Homo sapiens: one gene and its partner. The protein of the gene in region 2 interacts with the protein of the main gene of each other region in a pairwise test. Each region holds a gene or a part of one and is shown on either strand. Other genes may lie near its edges.

The links.
Region 1: the proteins of PNRC1 (region 2) and POLR3F interact in binary tests that used the Homo sapiens proteins (3 or more experiments, as listed by UniProt).

Annotation. Positions count from the first base shown.
Region 1 is NC_000020.11:18,477,390-18,484,389, reverse strand, and holds part of POLR3F (DNA-directed RNA polymerase III subunit RPC6), read right to left. Parts: intron 4,353-7,000; coding exon 4,209-4,352; intron 3,989-4,208; coding exon 3,881-3,988; intron 2,772-3,880; coding exon 2,580-2,771; intron 910-2,579; coding exon 832-909; 3' UTR 1-831. UniProt on the Homo sapiens protein: DNA-dependent RNA polymerase catalyzes the transcription of DNA into RNA using the four ribonucleoside triphosphates as substrates.
Region 2 is NC_000006.12:89,075,953-89,083,846, forward strand, and holds the start of PNRC1 (proline-rich nuclear receptor coactivator 1), read left to right. Parts: upstream 1-4,798; 5' UTR 4,799-4,942; coding exon 4,943-5,482; intron 5,483-6,598; coding exon of another isoform or gene 6,599-6,625; exon of another isoform or gene 6,626-6,783; intron 6,784-7,800; coding exon 7,801-7,894. UniProt on the Homo sapiens protein: Nuclear receptor coactivator. May play a role in signal transduction.

The sequences.
Region 1 (7,000 bases), on a different chromosome or scaffold from region 2:
TGGAAATGAGATTTCAACATTAGAATTCTGGGGGCACACAAACATTCAGTCTACTGCAGACATTAAATAAGAATCTAGGGTAAATTCTAACAAAGAATACATTTGAGTTAAAGAGTGAAACATAAGACTTTAAGAAAGAAGGAACAGTGAAAATATTCTTTAGAATGAAAATGATAGTATTTATGTACTGAAAATATGTCCTTGACAGTAGTCATTGGGTTTGAAGTAAGTATGGTAGCATAATCTCCTAAAAGAACATTTCTGATACAAAAAGGAATTAATATTGTGCGGAAAAGGCATGTTCCACTCTCCCCCAGTCATACCCCAAGTTTGCACTCTTTGCTATTCCTGCCTTTAACCCCTTCTAATTTCTTTTCAATGAAACCACTGAGAAAGTAGGAAACAGAAAATGGTGGTAGTGAACCAGATATAAAAAAAAACTTCCAATGAAGAACTTAATAAATAACTTTAAAAAGAACATTTTTATACTCTAGCCATTATCATAGTACTTGGTAAATACGGGTATGTTGGCATCTTTTTCCTTGACCCATCAGAAGTCTTGAAAGATGTGGTCCTCCGGAGTTTCAAAGTGTTTTATTTATTGAAGAATGAATTTCACTACTAACCTTATTTCTTTCATATTCTACTGGCTATTTTACCAATATAAATTTAGTCTTCATAAATAAAAAAAATATGTTTTCATAGCAGCAAGTCTACGTCCATTATTGTGAAGTTTGCTTTCAAGGAGATTTCGTGTTCCATCATGAATTAAATTATCTGCTCCCTAAGTAACTTCATTTGCAAAATGTCAATAAAGTTCATAGCTCTCTATTAAAATTCGAGCCACTCTGTCATGTAAATACAGTTAGATGGTGAAATCTCACCACCTTCGTGGCAGTCATCAAAAACCTTTAAAAAAGAAAAAAAAATTATATTCAAATTAAAGTTTTAAAATATCTAAGACCCAACCACTTATTTAAAGCAAGATTAAAAACAAAACTTTCAAACTGAAAGGGACTAGGACTGTACTTAAGAACATATTATAGCCGGACGCAGTGGCTCACACCTGTAATCCCAGCACTTTGGGAGGCCGAGGTGGGTGGTCAAGACCATCCTGGCTAACATGGTGAAACCCCGTCTCTACTAAGAATACAAAAATTAGCTGAGCGTGGTGGCAGGCACCTGTAATCCCAGCTACTCGGGAGGCTGAGGCAGGAGAATTGCTTGAACCTGGGAGGCAGAGGTTGTAGTGAGCCAAGATCGTGCCACTGCACTCCAGCCTGGGCGACAGCAAGACTCCATCTCGGGGGGCGAGGGGGGAGCGGGAAGAACATACTATAATAGGGCCTGCTTTGTGATCATCAAGTTAGGAGTAGTAGAGAGGCTTTTTTTACTGTGGCATTAAGATGACCATGCTCACCTGTCTGCTGGGCAAAAGGCTATCACCAGGTAACACAGGAATATGGGCAGGGAGACCTATACATATGAATGACTTAATTTTGATTAACCAAATGTTTCATGTTTAGCTACCTTTTTGTGAAGGGTGCAAAACAGAATTCCTAATATGTTAGCCTTTTGTCTAGGGACTGAAACCAAGGCATAGAGAGCTTAGGCATATAGACAAAGGTTGGTATAATGAAATAAAACACACACAGGCTCATCTATAAATGCCATGAGGACTGGGACAGTGTCTCTTGCTTTCTCTTGTATCCTTAGTGCCTAGAGCATAGAGTTGGCACTTACAATATTTGGGAATGAATGAAGGAGGAGTGCTGGGGCATGCTGCAGGGGAAAGACATGATCTCTGGGTTTGAATCCCGGTTACTTCTAAGCTGTATGCCCCTATGTCTTCCTAAGCCTAAGCTCCCTCACTTTTAAGGGGAAATAACACCACTAGCTTCAAGAATGTAAGGAGGATTAAATGAGACCGCCTATGGAAATCATCAAGGACATATCTGGCCCAAGGTAGGTTCTCAACAAATCTCATTTTCTGCCCTATTTAGGTGAAATGATTAGCCCTCATCAAAAAGTGTCCATTTCAAGGCCAAGAGCAGAAAACGTAAATATCCTTAATGTGGTTGTTCCAAGAAAGAATGTAAAGCAGGGGGCCAGGTACAGGGGCACATGCCTGTAATCTCAGCACTTTGGGAGGCTGAGGGGATCACCTGAGGTCAGGAGTTCGAGACCAGCCTGGCCAACATGGTGAAACCCCGTCTCCACTAAAAATAAAAAAAATTAGCTGGGCATGGTGGTGGGTGCCTATAATCTCAGGTACTCAGGTGGCTGAGGCAGGAGAGCTGCTTGAACCCGGGAGTTGGAGGTTGCAATGAGTCAAGATTGTGCCACTGCACTCCAGCCTCGGTGATAGAGTGAGACTCCGTCTCAAAAAAAAAAAAAAAAAAAAAAGTAAAGGAATGATGTGTTCATTAAAGGTCTGTTCATCAAGGTTTCATGGAGGTTTGAATAGCTCTTGGTCAACCCTAAGAGTCTGAGAAAACTGGGCTGTGCTTGCTCTGTTTCTTAATGTGGCACTTGCACCCGTGGGCAGTCAAGTGTAAAGTGAAGCCACTTTAACTCACCGGGCAGAGTCCACAGGGTGCCCGGACCAAACCTGTGGGAGGGATGATTGGATTGACTGCCCTGTACAGTTTCATGTGTCCATCTACACTGCCAACTGTGCCTTCTTTTGCAGCAATAATCGTCATCTCCACTTTTCCATCATAAATGAGTGTATTCAGGATGGTTTCAATGTCTTCCATGGATAACTCTACCTAAAAAAGGGATACATCAGAAAGGACACAAGTAGGATAGGGAGACATCCACTTGGAGGGTGTTAAAAACAGTAAAGGGTTGCTGGGCGCAGTGGCTCACGCCTGTAATCCCAGCACTTTGGGAAGCCGAGGCAGGTGGATCACTTGAGGTCAGGAGTTCGAGACCAGCCTGGCCAACATGGCAAAACCCTGTCTCTACTAAAAATACAATTAGCTGGGTATGGTGGCAGGCACTTGTAATCCCACCTACTCGGGAGGCTGAGGCAGGAGAATGGCTTGAACCCGGGAGACGGAAGTTGCAGTGAGCTGAGATCGCACTACTGTACTCCAGCCTGGGCAACAAGAGCCAAACTCCATCTCAAATAAATAAATAAAACAGTAAAGGGTCATAATTCTGCTGTGAAATGGGAGAAACATTATGCTGGGGTGGAGTAATTTAAAGCACAAAGAGGAGGAACAATAGGCCAAGTTAGCACAAACCACTGAGGTGCCAGGGACAGAACTCTAAGCTCATGCTGAGTTTGACACTTTCTGGTATCTTTACTTCCTAAGTAAAATCGAGAAATCTTATAAAAAATAACATTTCTTTAGCAGGAATTTATTGGAGATTTATAAAATGCTTGAGCAGAAAGGCACTTTAGACATCAAATAGTCCAAGTTCCTAGTTTTTATGAGAAATCTGAGGCCCAGGAAATTAAAGTGACATGTCCAAAATGGCCACTTTGATTTCTTCACTGTGAAAAGCATCAGTGTCCTTAAAAAAAGAATTTCAAAAGGCTAGGGTACAGTGGCACTTTGGGAGGCCAACGCAGGAGGATCACTTGAGTCCAGAAGTTCAAAACCAGCCTGGGCAACAAAATGAGACCCTACCTCCAAAAAAATAAAAAAAGCATCAGTGTCCCAAGCTGAGTATCAGTTCAGACAATGCCCAATGGCAGTGACTGCCTTTGCCTAAGATACAGGACAGTATTTTCCCAAAGTGGATTCTGCAGAATGTTCGTAGCTATCATCTCAAAAAAAAAAAACAATGTGGGTCAAATACATGTTTGGAATACATTGTATGTGACAAAGAATAAGTTTTAAAAAATAAGATGAAATTCAGTTCTGACCTTACTGATTCCCAATTCGCAGATATATTTCCACACTTCATGTGATGAGGCAAATGAACTATTTCTTTGTATCATTGGGTTCTGTTTGCTTTCTCGTGCTGTTTCTGCCTATAAGGATTGAAACATAAGAAATGTAAATAAGAATATTGGTGTGTTTTCTGAATACACTTTATACTGAGTCAAACCAACAACAGAACATATTTAGTTAAGTAAAAATTCCCAATTTCAGGTTTTTAATTCCTATAAAATATGATAAATAGATTAAAATCCTTTGTGAAAAACTTTTTACAAGAGGGTTTGCAGTGATGTTTCCTCAATCATACCTCACCTTGGACTGTAGGAATTTAAAACACTGTTGGTTAAGCACCTCTACAAATTCAGATTCAAAATCCTGGTCACTGTACCAGGCTCCACCAGTCACAGACCGGTCTGGCTGCAGGTTATAGAGCATATACACCTTCTTTTTTGAGGCCTAGGAAAGAACATGCACAGTTCATGTGTTTATAAGATAACAATTTCCAAAAACAAAAACACCTATATTTTGGAACAGTTTAAGATGTACAAAATTATTGCAAAGATAGTACACAGAGCTCCTATATACATCATGCTGTTTCCCCTATTTTTAACATCTTGGATTAGTGTGGTACACTTGTCACAATTAATGAACTAATATTGATAAATCATTACTAACTAAATGCCATACTTTATTCAGATTTCATTAGTCCTAATGTTCCTTTTCTGCTCCAGGATTCCATCCAGGACATCATACTACATTTAGTCATCTCTCTCAGGCTTCTTTTAGTTGTGACAGTTTCTCAAACACCGTATTTCTATCACTATGGACTCATGAGTATTTATTTTATACTTTGATTTACATTCAGATACTTCATTGTTATTCCCACACTGGAAGCTTTGGAATGCTTTGGGCATTGGAAGCTTTTCACTTGGTTCCTGTATCCCTTTGCTATGCTCCCATCGTGTGTGTGTGTATTTTAGCACTTTTTTTTTTCTTTTGGAGACAGGGTCTTGCACTGTCGCCCAGGCTGGCGTGCACTGGTGCAATCTTGGTTCACTGCAACCTCTGCCTCTTGGGTTCAAGTGATTCTCCTGCCTCAGCCTCCCGAGTAGCTGGGGCTACAGGCATGTGCCACCATGCCCAGCTAATTTTTGTATTTTTAGCAGAGACGGGGGTGTCACCATGTTGGCCAGGATGGTCTCGATCTCTTGACCTCGTGATCCTCCCGCCTCAGCCTCCCAAAGTGCTGGGATTACAGGCATGAGCCCCCGTGTCCAGCTATTGTAGCACTTTCTTACTTTCTAGCACTACAAGATGTCAAGAGCATTTTCTTTTCTTTTTTTTTTTGAAACGGAGTTTCGCTCTTGTTGCCAGGCTGGAGTGCAATGGCACACGATCTCAGCTTACTGCAACCTCCACCTCCCAGGTTCAAGCGATTCTCCTGTCTCAGCCTCCCGAGTAGCTGGGATTACAGGCGCCCGTCACTATGCCCAGCTAATTTTTTTGTATTTTCAGTAGAGATGGGGTTTCACCATGTTGGCCAAGCTGGTCTCTAATTCCTGACCTCAGGTGATCCACCCTCCTTGGCCTCCCAAAGTGCTGGGATTACAGGCATGAACCACCCTGCCCAGCCGTCAGGAGCATTTTCTACATGTTCATTTTATTGCATGATAGAAACCACGACTTGGGCACTAGATGTGTTCATTGCCATCGGGATGTCATCACTTCTAGGCCTTCTCAGTTGGCAGCACGAGATTTATGTGCGCATATTAACCCTTGTATATATACATAGCTATACTCAATATTTCTAAATATAACCATCTATATTATTTATATTAAATTACACAAGAGTCCATACTGATGTTTTCAAGTCTAATCCATTACTACATGGATCATTCTAACTTTCCTTGTTTGTCTGTAACTACTCACCCCAACACTGAGGAACCCAAATTTCACTGGGTTGTAAACATGAAGAATTTGGGCCAGGCATGGTGGCTTATGCCTGTAATCCCAGCACTTTGGGAGGCTGAGGTGGGCAGATCTTTAAGTCTAGGAGTTCAAGACAGGCCTGGGTAACATAGTAAAACCCTGTCTCTACAAAAATACAAAAATTAGCTGAGCATGGTGGCACGTGCCTATAGTCCCAGCTACTTGGAAGGCTGTGGTGGGAGGATGGCTTGAGCCCAGGAGGTTGATGCTGCAGTGAGCTGTGATTGTGCCACTGCACTCCAGTCTGGGTGACAGAGCCAGACCATGTCTCAAAAAAAAAAAAAAAGAAAAAAATTTGGCTAGACTTTGTCCCTTTTTCCTAGGAAATAACTTCTACATCTTTGGAATTTCCCAATAGGCCTTGTTATTCATGGTGAATCCCTTAGATCACACCTGGGTTTATGCTAACAAGGTGACTCCTGATAGGACTCTAAATAGTTTCAGGATAGGAGTTGTCCATGCTGGAAAGACCAACCGCATGATTAGAGGGTTGGGGCTTTGGGCCACATGACATCAGTCCAATCTCTTGGGAGAAGAGAGGAGCTGGAGATTGAATTCACTCACATGACCAAGGATTCAATCAATCATGCCTGTATAATGAAACCCTAATAAAAACTTTGGACAGCAAAGCTTGGGTGGGCTTCCAAATTTGGTTAATGCTTCTGTCATACAAAATAATTTCACCACCCTAGAAATATTTCTCATGCTTCACCTATTCAACTTTCCCTACCATCCCTGCCCTCACCCCGATCTTTTTAGTCTGTCTAGTTTTGCCTTTTCCAGTATGTCATATAGTTGTAATCATACAGTATGTAGCCTTTTCGGACTGGCTTCTTTTACTTAGCAATATGCATTTAAGATTTACTCATATCTTTTCATGATAGCTTATTTCTTTTTATAACTGAATACTATTCTGGTTTGTCTATCCATTCACCTATTGAAGGATACCTTGGTTGCTTCCAGTTTTTGATTATGAATAAAGCTGCTGATTACGAATAAAGCTGCTATAAATATTCATGTAGTTATGTGGACATGAGTTTTCAAATCAGTTGGGTAAATACTTAAGAGCTTGACCTTTGGACAATGTGGTAAGACTCTGTTTAGTTTTGTAAAAA
Region 2 (7,894 bases):
TGGCCAACATGGTGAAACCCCATCTCTACTAAAAATACAAAAATTGGCCAGGCATGGTGGCATGCACCTGTAATCCCAGCTACTCAGGAGGCTGGGGCAGGAGAATCACTTGAACCTGGGAGGTGGAGGTTGCAGTGAGCCGAGCTGAGATCACACTACTACACTTCAGCCTGGGCAACAGAGTGAGACACCGTCTAAAAAAAAAAAAAAAGCAAAATAGAAGTTTGATTAAGTGTTCCTCTTTTCACACAGGTGTCCCTCACACCTTAGACATTACAGATCTAAGCAATAGGCTGGGTGAGGTGGCTCATGCCTGTAATCCCAGCACTTTGGGAGGCCAAAGTGGTTGGATCACTTGAACTCAGGAGTTCGAGACCAGCTTGGGCAACATGGCAAAACCCTGTCTCTATCAAACACGCACACACACAAATTAGCAGACATGGTGGCATGCGCCAGCTAGGGAGGATGAGGTGTGAGAATCTCCTGAACGCCAGAGGTGGAGGCTGCAGTGAGTTGTTATCGCACCACTGCACTCCAGCCTGGGTGACAGAGTGAAGCCCTGTCTCAAAAAAGAAAAAGAAAAAAAAATCTAAGTAATAATAGGTAGAAAAAATGGTAATAAAGTCTATATAAAGAGGAAAAAAGACATTCAGGGTAGGAGGAAAGAAAATGACATTTCATACAGAGAGAGGGAGAGAAAGAGGACAGAGGTAAAATACACGAGAGACAAAGGTAGATAGAAGAGAGAGAAGTGGAATTTGGAGTTCTGCTTAGTGTCAATGCGGGTAAGCTGCTTATTTCATAAATGGGCATTACCTCTTTTTTCTGCTATTTAATACCTAGTTTACTTTCCAATCTTTTATTTTTCTTCTAACCTCCTCTAAAGATTAGCTTAACAAAAATAAAATCAAGATGTACACTGGAGCAAAAAGCTTCAAGAACTCTGAGAATTCTCCTAAAATTTCCTTTACCCTTGGAATATCTTGTTACCTCCAAGTTTGGCCTTTTGGGCCCAAGCAAAAGGATCTGATTTTTTTTTTTTTTTTTTTTTTCCCTGAGATGAAGTCTTGCTCTGTCGCCCAGGCTAGAGTGCAGTGGCGTGATCTCGGCTCACTGCAACCTCTACCTCCCAGGTTCAAGTGATTCTTCTGCCTCAGCCTCCCAAGTAGCTGGGACTACAGGCATGCACCACCACAACTGGCTAATTTTTGTATTTTTAGTAGAGACAGGGTTTCATCATGTTGGCCAGGCTGGTCTCCAACTCCTGACCTCAAGTGATCCATCCACCTTGCCATCCGTGAGCCACTGCACCCAGCCTGATCTTTTTCCTTTATATCATATAGCACAGCTAACACTATATGTTTAAACCTGTAACGCTTAGGTTTAAACATTAAAATTAGACTTTACTAAAGACTAAGGGTTTACAAAGACTACCCACACAGAGTAACATTAAATCCAATCATCTGGCTTATAAAACCTCGACCTCTCTCTTCTAAGTGCCCCATTTCAGCTCCCATTCTGTTTCTTAGTGGTGGGCACCATTTTAGCAATCTCAGCACCCATCACCCAGGTGGTCACAGCTGCAAGGTTACTTTTCTTACAGTACAGAACCCAGGGCAAACATGAAGCCTACACTTAAGGCCTCAAAATGATAAGTTATACACATAATTACTCCAACAATCACCCAAGAAATACACATAGACAATAATAGGTATCTTTGACCAAGGGCCCCACAGAGCTGGCTACCAATGACCAGCTCCCTGAAGGGTAAATTATTCTCTAGGACAGTATGATATTATCCCCAGATAAAGTCAAGCCTAAAATCATGGGATATAGTGAAAAGAACACTGGACTAGGCATCAGGAGTTCGAGTTATTCCTACCTCATTTTGTGAACCCCCCCCCCCAAGCAAGTTACTATATATTTAAATTTATTTACACCATACGTTAAATAGGACCTCTCTATATCAACCTTAAAGTGCTAGAGTAAGAATAAAATGAGATGACAGATGGAAAGTGCTTTGAAAAAGTAGATTCTTTTACAGCTCTGGATGTCCATGATTCCCATCCATCCAATGAACATGAGCACTTACTATGCATTACATGTTGCAGAAACAAAAATGAGTAAAATTCAGCAATTGGAATGAAATGGAGTTTTTTTGGTTTCTTTTTTGTTTTTTGAGATGGAGTATTGCTCTGTTGCCCAGGCTGGAGTGCAGTGGCATGATCTCGGCTCACTGCAACCTCTACCTCCCAGGTTTAAACGATCCTCCTGCCTCAGCCCCCCTAGTAGCTGGGATTACAGGCACATTAGCCTGTATGCCCAGCTAATTTTTATATTTTTAGTAGAGACAGGGTTTCGCCATGTTGGCCAGGCTGGTCTCAAACTCCTGACCTTAGGTAATCCAGCCGCCTCGGCCTCCCAAAGTGCTAGGATTACAGGTGTGAGCCACCACGCCTGGCCTGAAATGTAGTTTTAAAAGCTTATAAGGTTGACTGGGTTTGGTGGCTCACTCCTGTAATCCCATCACTTTGGGAGGCTGAGACAGGCAGATGGCTTGAGCTCAGGAGTTTGAGACCGGCCTGGGCAACATGGTGAAACCCTGTCTCCACTAAAAACACAAAAAATTAGCCAGGAGTGGTGGTGTGTGCCTGTGGTCCCAGCTACTCAGGGGCGTGGGGGGCTGGGGTTGGAGGATCTCTTGAGCCTGGGAGGCGGCTGTTGCTGTAATCCGAGATCATGCCATTGCACTCCAATCTGAGTGTCAGAAAGAAACCCCGTCTAAAAAAAAAAAAAAGTTTATAAAGTGATTGGGAAGCATTTTTCTGGATATGCAATCTGTCCAACTTTGCCATCAATCATAAAACGTTTCATTGCTTACTAATTGCTTACTACTCCAAAGCTGAAAACTATTGTAGAGGCGGTGAGGATACAGAAGTGTAAGATTACTGTGGTCTTCTAATAATGTAGAATCTAGTGTGGCAGGGCTGGACGCGGTGGCTCACGCCTGTAATCCCAGCACTTTGGAAGGCCGAGGCAGGCGGATCACGAGGTCAGGAGATCAAGACCATCCTGGCCAACAAGGTGAAACCCCGTCTCTACTAAAAAATACAGAAATTAGCTGGGCGTGGCGGGTGCCTGTAATCCCAGCTACTAGGGAGGCTGAGGCAGGAGAATCTCTTGAACCAGGGAGACGGAGGTTGCAGTAAGCCGAGATGGCGCCACTGCACTGCAGCCTGGCCACAGAGTGACACGCCGTCTCAAAAAAAAAAAAAAAAAAATTAAAACTTTTGTCTTGCAGTACCTGGACTGGAGATCAAATTCTGATGTTAACTTACCGTTTGATCTTTGACAAGTCCTTTAGCCTTTCTAAGCCTGTTTCCCCAGCTGTAAAATGGGAATAAAATACAGTACTGTCCCTCCAAAAAGAAGCTGAGGCAAAATCAGGCCAAGCTTGAGGACTGCAACCCAGGACCATAGATTCAAGCTGCCCTGAATATACACTCGGATTAGCAAGTTACAAGTAGGTTTTTAAAGGAAAAGAGGCAGCTCCTAAATTGTTTACCAATTTACATTAAAATATCGTGGGCTCTTGACTAGCTATACATTGTTCTTTGTATCTTAAATTTCAGAAACTTAAAGATAATGCGTAGGCAGCTAATCAGGAACAAAATGCCTTTAAACAATTGCCCCAGGCATTAGTAGTGAAAGGAAGAGAATGACAGCCTGCCTACTTCGCAGAGCTGAGGTCTGATCTATTTTTCTTAGTACCTATTCGTAAGGGTTGTTGTGAGGTTAAAGTGAGACAATCTATGTAAAGAACAGTTCCTGGAACATAAATGCTTGATAAATTATGGCCACAATTCTTTTTTGTGGTTGAGCAGTGCGGGGAGATCGCGAAAAATTTCTATTTACGCGCAGCTAACAAAATACTCTATGTTGCAGAGCTGTTTCACTTTCTCCCTTTGAGACGCAAGCCGGCTTGCCGCCTCCTCAAGTAACCAGGCACAATGTTCTGATCCCAAAGTCTCACAATCCTTCAAGTATGAAATCAGTAAAAACTCCAACTTCCATTTATGGATTTACGGAGAACTTTTTATACATCGAGGGGCTAATTCAATCAGTAAGTCACTTTGATTTTTACTCTGATCACCGAGACTAATAAGCAGCGATGCCGAACCAAGTAAATGAAAGAATCGTGAGCCATACTTCAGTAGATAAAATTTAAATGTAGACTGATTTTCTTCACGATTGCTAGGGAAGAAATCCTTACAGCGTACTTAGAAATCTTTGTTTTAAAATGATAACGCTGTTATGTTGGGCTGAAAATAAAACGGATACTTCCCCAAGGTCAGCAGCGGAGGAGGCAACCGTGGCCTTGCCAAAGTCATCCCCTCTTCCCAGCCCCCGTTCTTCCTGCCGCCCTCCCCCTGCCCCCTCCCTTCCCCACCCCCATCAACAAACTCCGCCGGGACATTTCAGTACCACCACTCCCTAGCCCGGCGAAGCGCAGGGGCGTGCTGGGGAGGAGTAAAGAGGGTGGGGCGGAAACCCAATTTCATTGTTCGCGGGACCGATTCTTCCCAAAAGAGCTCGCTGGCAGCGCCTGCGCAGTGCGCCCTCTTTGTGCCAGGCTGCAGCAAGCTGGTTGTTTGTGTGTGTCTACCCGAAGCTGCGGAGGCGGAGCGAGGGGGCGTGGCCTGCCTTGTCGCACTCTAATTGGGCTTTCGCAGGAAAGTGGGCGGGCGCGGGGCGGAGCTTCCGATAACAACACTCGGAGCTGGGGCTGTGGCTATTTGTTGCTGCGCCGCCACCGCCCGAGTCATGTTCCGCGATCTTCTCAGGCTCTCCTAGCAGCATCCATCGCCGCCACCCTATCTTCACTGGCTTCATTCACCTTCTCCTTCTCTCTTCGTTGCTGAGCGACAAGCTTCCTAGCGCTATGACTGTCGTCTCCGTCCCGCAGCGGGAGCCGCTCGTCCTGGGTGGCCGCCTTGCGCCGCTTGGCTTTTCCTCCCGAGGTTACTTTGGGGCCCTCCCGATGGTGACCACGGCTCCGCCTCCTTTACCCCGGATCCCGGACCCCCGGGCACTGCCCCCGACCCTCTTCCTCCCTCATTTCCTAGGGGGAGATGGCCCGTGTCTGACCCCCCAGCCTCGCGCTCCAGCAGCTCTGCCCAACCGCAGCCTCGCCGTGGCGGGAGGCACTCCTCGGGCAGCGCCGAAGAAGCGGCGAAAGAAGAAGGTGCGGGCCAGCCCCGCAGGGCAGCTGCCCAGCCGCTTCCACCAGTACCAGCAGCACCGGCCGAGTCTGGAGGGCGGCCGGAGCCCCGCGACCGGCCCGAGCGGAGCGCAGGAGGTCCCGGGCCCGGCCGCCGCCTTGGCCCCGAGTCCTGCAGCCGCAGCCGGCACGGAGGGAGCCAGCCCCGACCTTGCCCCGCTGCGGCCCGCGGCTCCCGGCCAAACCCCCCTCAGGAAAGAGGTGAGGCCGCCAGGGGGCCGTTGGGGAGTCGGGCCCTTAGACGGTCGCGGCCGAGCTCTGGGGCTGCAGACCCTGCACCCGGGGGGTCGGGCGGGTGGGGGCGGGGTGGGGGGGGCGGCTGTTTACTCGGGAGGGAAGTTTCCGTGACGCCCGCTCCATTCTTGCTTTGGGGGAAGAAGGGGGAAGGGGAGGCATGCGCTGGCGCTTCTGATTGGCTCCCAGGAGTCGGCCAATGAGAAGCGCCGCTGCGCCCCAGCAACAGCCCCGATTTAGAAGGCTGGCGGCGTTCCAGGGGGTTTCGGCGTTCCGGGCGCGCGGCGGGGTGGGGGCAGGGACAGGGCCCGCGGGAGGGCTGACGTCAGCGCGCGCTACGTGCCCGGCGCTCCGGCGCCCATGAAGGAGGCGAGGCCGGGTGGGGGCAGCTGGGGAAGGACTGGGCCCGGCTTTCGGCCTCCCGGCTATCGGGAGCCCCAGTCCTAGTCGGTGAAACGCGGAGACGGCCTCTAACGTCCCGCCGTAGGGGGTGGAGTGGGCTCCGAGCGGCTGGGTTTCGTTTGGTTGGAGTTGTGCCAAAATGTGAGGTGCCCGGTGTGGGACGCGCAGTCCAGTTGGGGCTCTGCCCGCCTCGGGCCTGACCTACTTAGTGGTTCCAAGTTAAGAGTTGGCAGGAGCCGCACAAAACTGATTTTATTACTTTTGCCACTGTGGTACTTCGTGTTAGTGTGTCCAGAGTAAGTTTTCAGAAGAGTTAGCAATTGAATTGACTTAGCCCGTCTGATTGCAGTGCTATTGCATTAGGATAAAATGGATAGAAGTTTAAATAGGATTAAGTCTACGAAATGATTTCAAAGTCTTGTCAGAATAACGTTTTATGGACTTAAGTTCAATGACTTAATCTTCGTAATAATGAAATGAAAAAGTTCCCGTTATTTAGTGAAGAATGTTGCATTGAATTAGAGATTTGCGGTTTATCTGTGCCCTTGGGAAAAAATTTGCCCACCTTGTTTCTTTAAATTATCGTCTCAATGTCTCCCTTTTAAAATTCCACGACTTTTGAAATATCCGTGATTACCTAAAAGCTTTTGTGCTTGTTTCCTGGCCTGTTTTCTAGAACAGGTACTAACTAGGGAGCTCTGGCAGTGAACCTTATTGACGTGGAAAGTTGTGGTCCTCTTTCGTGTCGTGTCTTGCTTACTACCGCGTTACAAGTGTTGGTAGTGCAGTGATCTAGTGGATTACCTTACGCTTTTCCATCCTTTCAAGACTTCCTATAAGGCCCACTTAAGTTGGGAAAGATTAAGGTGAGTGAAGCAGCGTTCTTGAAGCAGTTACTAAACCAGAAAGGAGGTACACAGCAAAGATTGTTTCTGGCACTCGTATTTGGAAGAGAGCTCATTAGTCTTCCTTACAGTTGTAGAAAGGTGGACTTGGGTTATTTCAGACTTTTTTTAGTTTGACATTTTAGAACTGGTTCACGTTGCATACTGGTAACTAGCAGTGGTGATTAACTGCATTTTTAGTGGCGAACAAGAGTGAACTTAAAAGTCAAGGGAAATTTAAGTTTTTTGTTGTTTTTTTTTTCTTGAGACAGAGTCTGCCTCTATCGCACTCCAGGCTGGAATGCAGTGGCACGATCGATCTCTGCTCACTGCATCCTCCCCTTCCCAGGCTGAAGGGATCCCGCCTCAGCCAGCCTCCCGAGGCGCGTGTTACCACGCCGGGCTGATTTTTATATTTGTAGTAGACATGGGGTTTCGCTATGTTGCCCAGGCTGGTCTCGAACTCCTTGAGCTTGAGCGATCTGCTTGCCTTGACCTCCCAAAGTGCTGGGATTACAGGCGTGAGCCACCATGCCCAATTAAAGTTTTTGTAATTTTCAGCTTTTATTTTAGATCAAGGAGGTACTTGTGCAGGTTTGCTACATGGGTATATTTCGTGATGCTGAGGTTTGGAGTATGAATGATCCCATTCCAGGTAGTGAGCATAGTACCCAGTAGGTCCCCATCTCTCTCTCAACCCCCCTTCTAGTAGTGCCTAGTGTCTGTTGTTGTTCCCCACTATATCCATGTTGTACCCAGTGTTTAGCTCCCAAATTCACTTGTAAGTGAGAACTTGCGATATTTGGTTTTCTGTTTCTGCATTAATTCGTCTAGGGTAATGGCCCCCAGCTACATACGTGTTGTCACAAAGAACATAATTTTGTTCTTTTCTATGGCTGTGGGCAAACTTAAACACAACAAAACTAGATATGTGATATGAGGTTCATAACTGATTTTTATCTAGAAACTATATTTACTTTTGTGTTCTTGTCTTTGTAGGTTTTAAAATCAAAGATGGGAAAATCGGAGAAAATTGCCCTTCCCCATGGCCAGCTTGTTCATGGTATACACTTGTATGAGCAACCAAAGATAA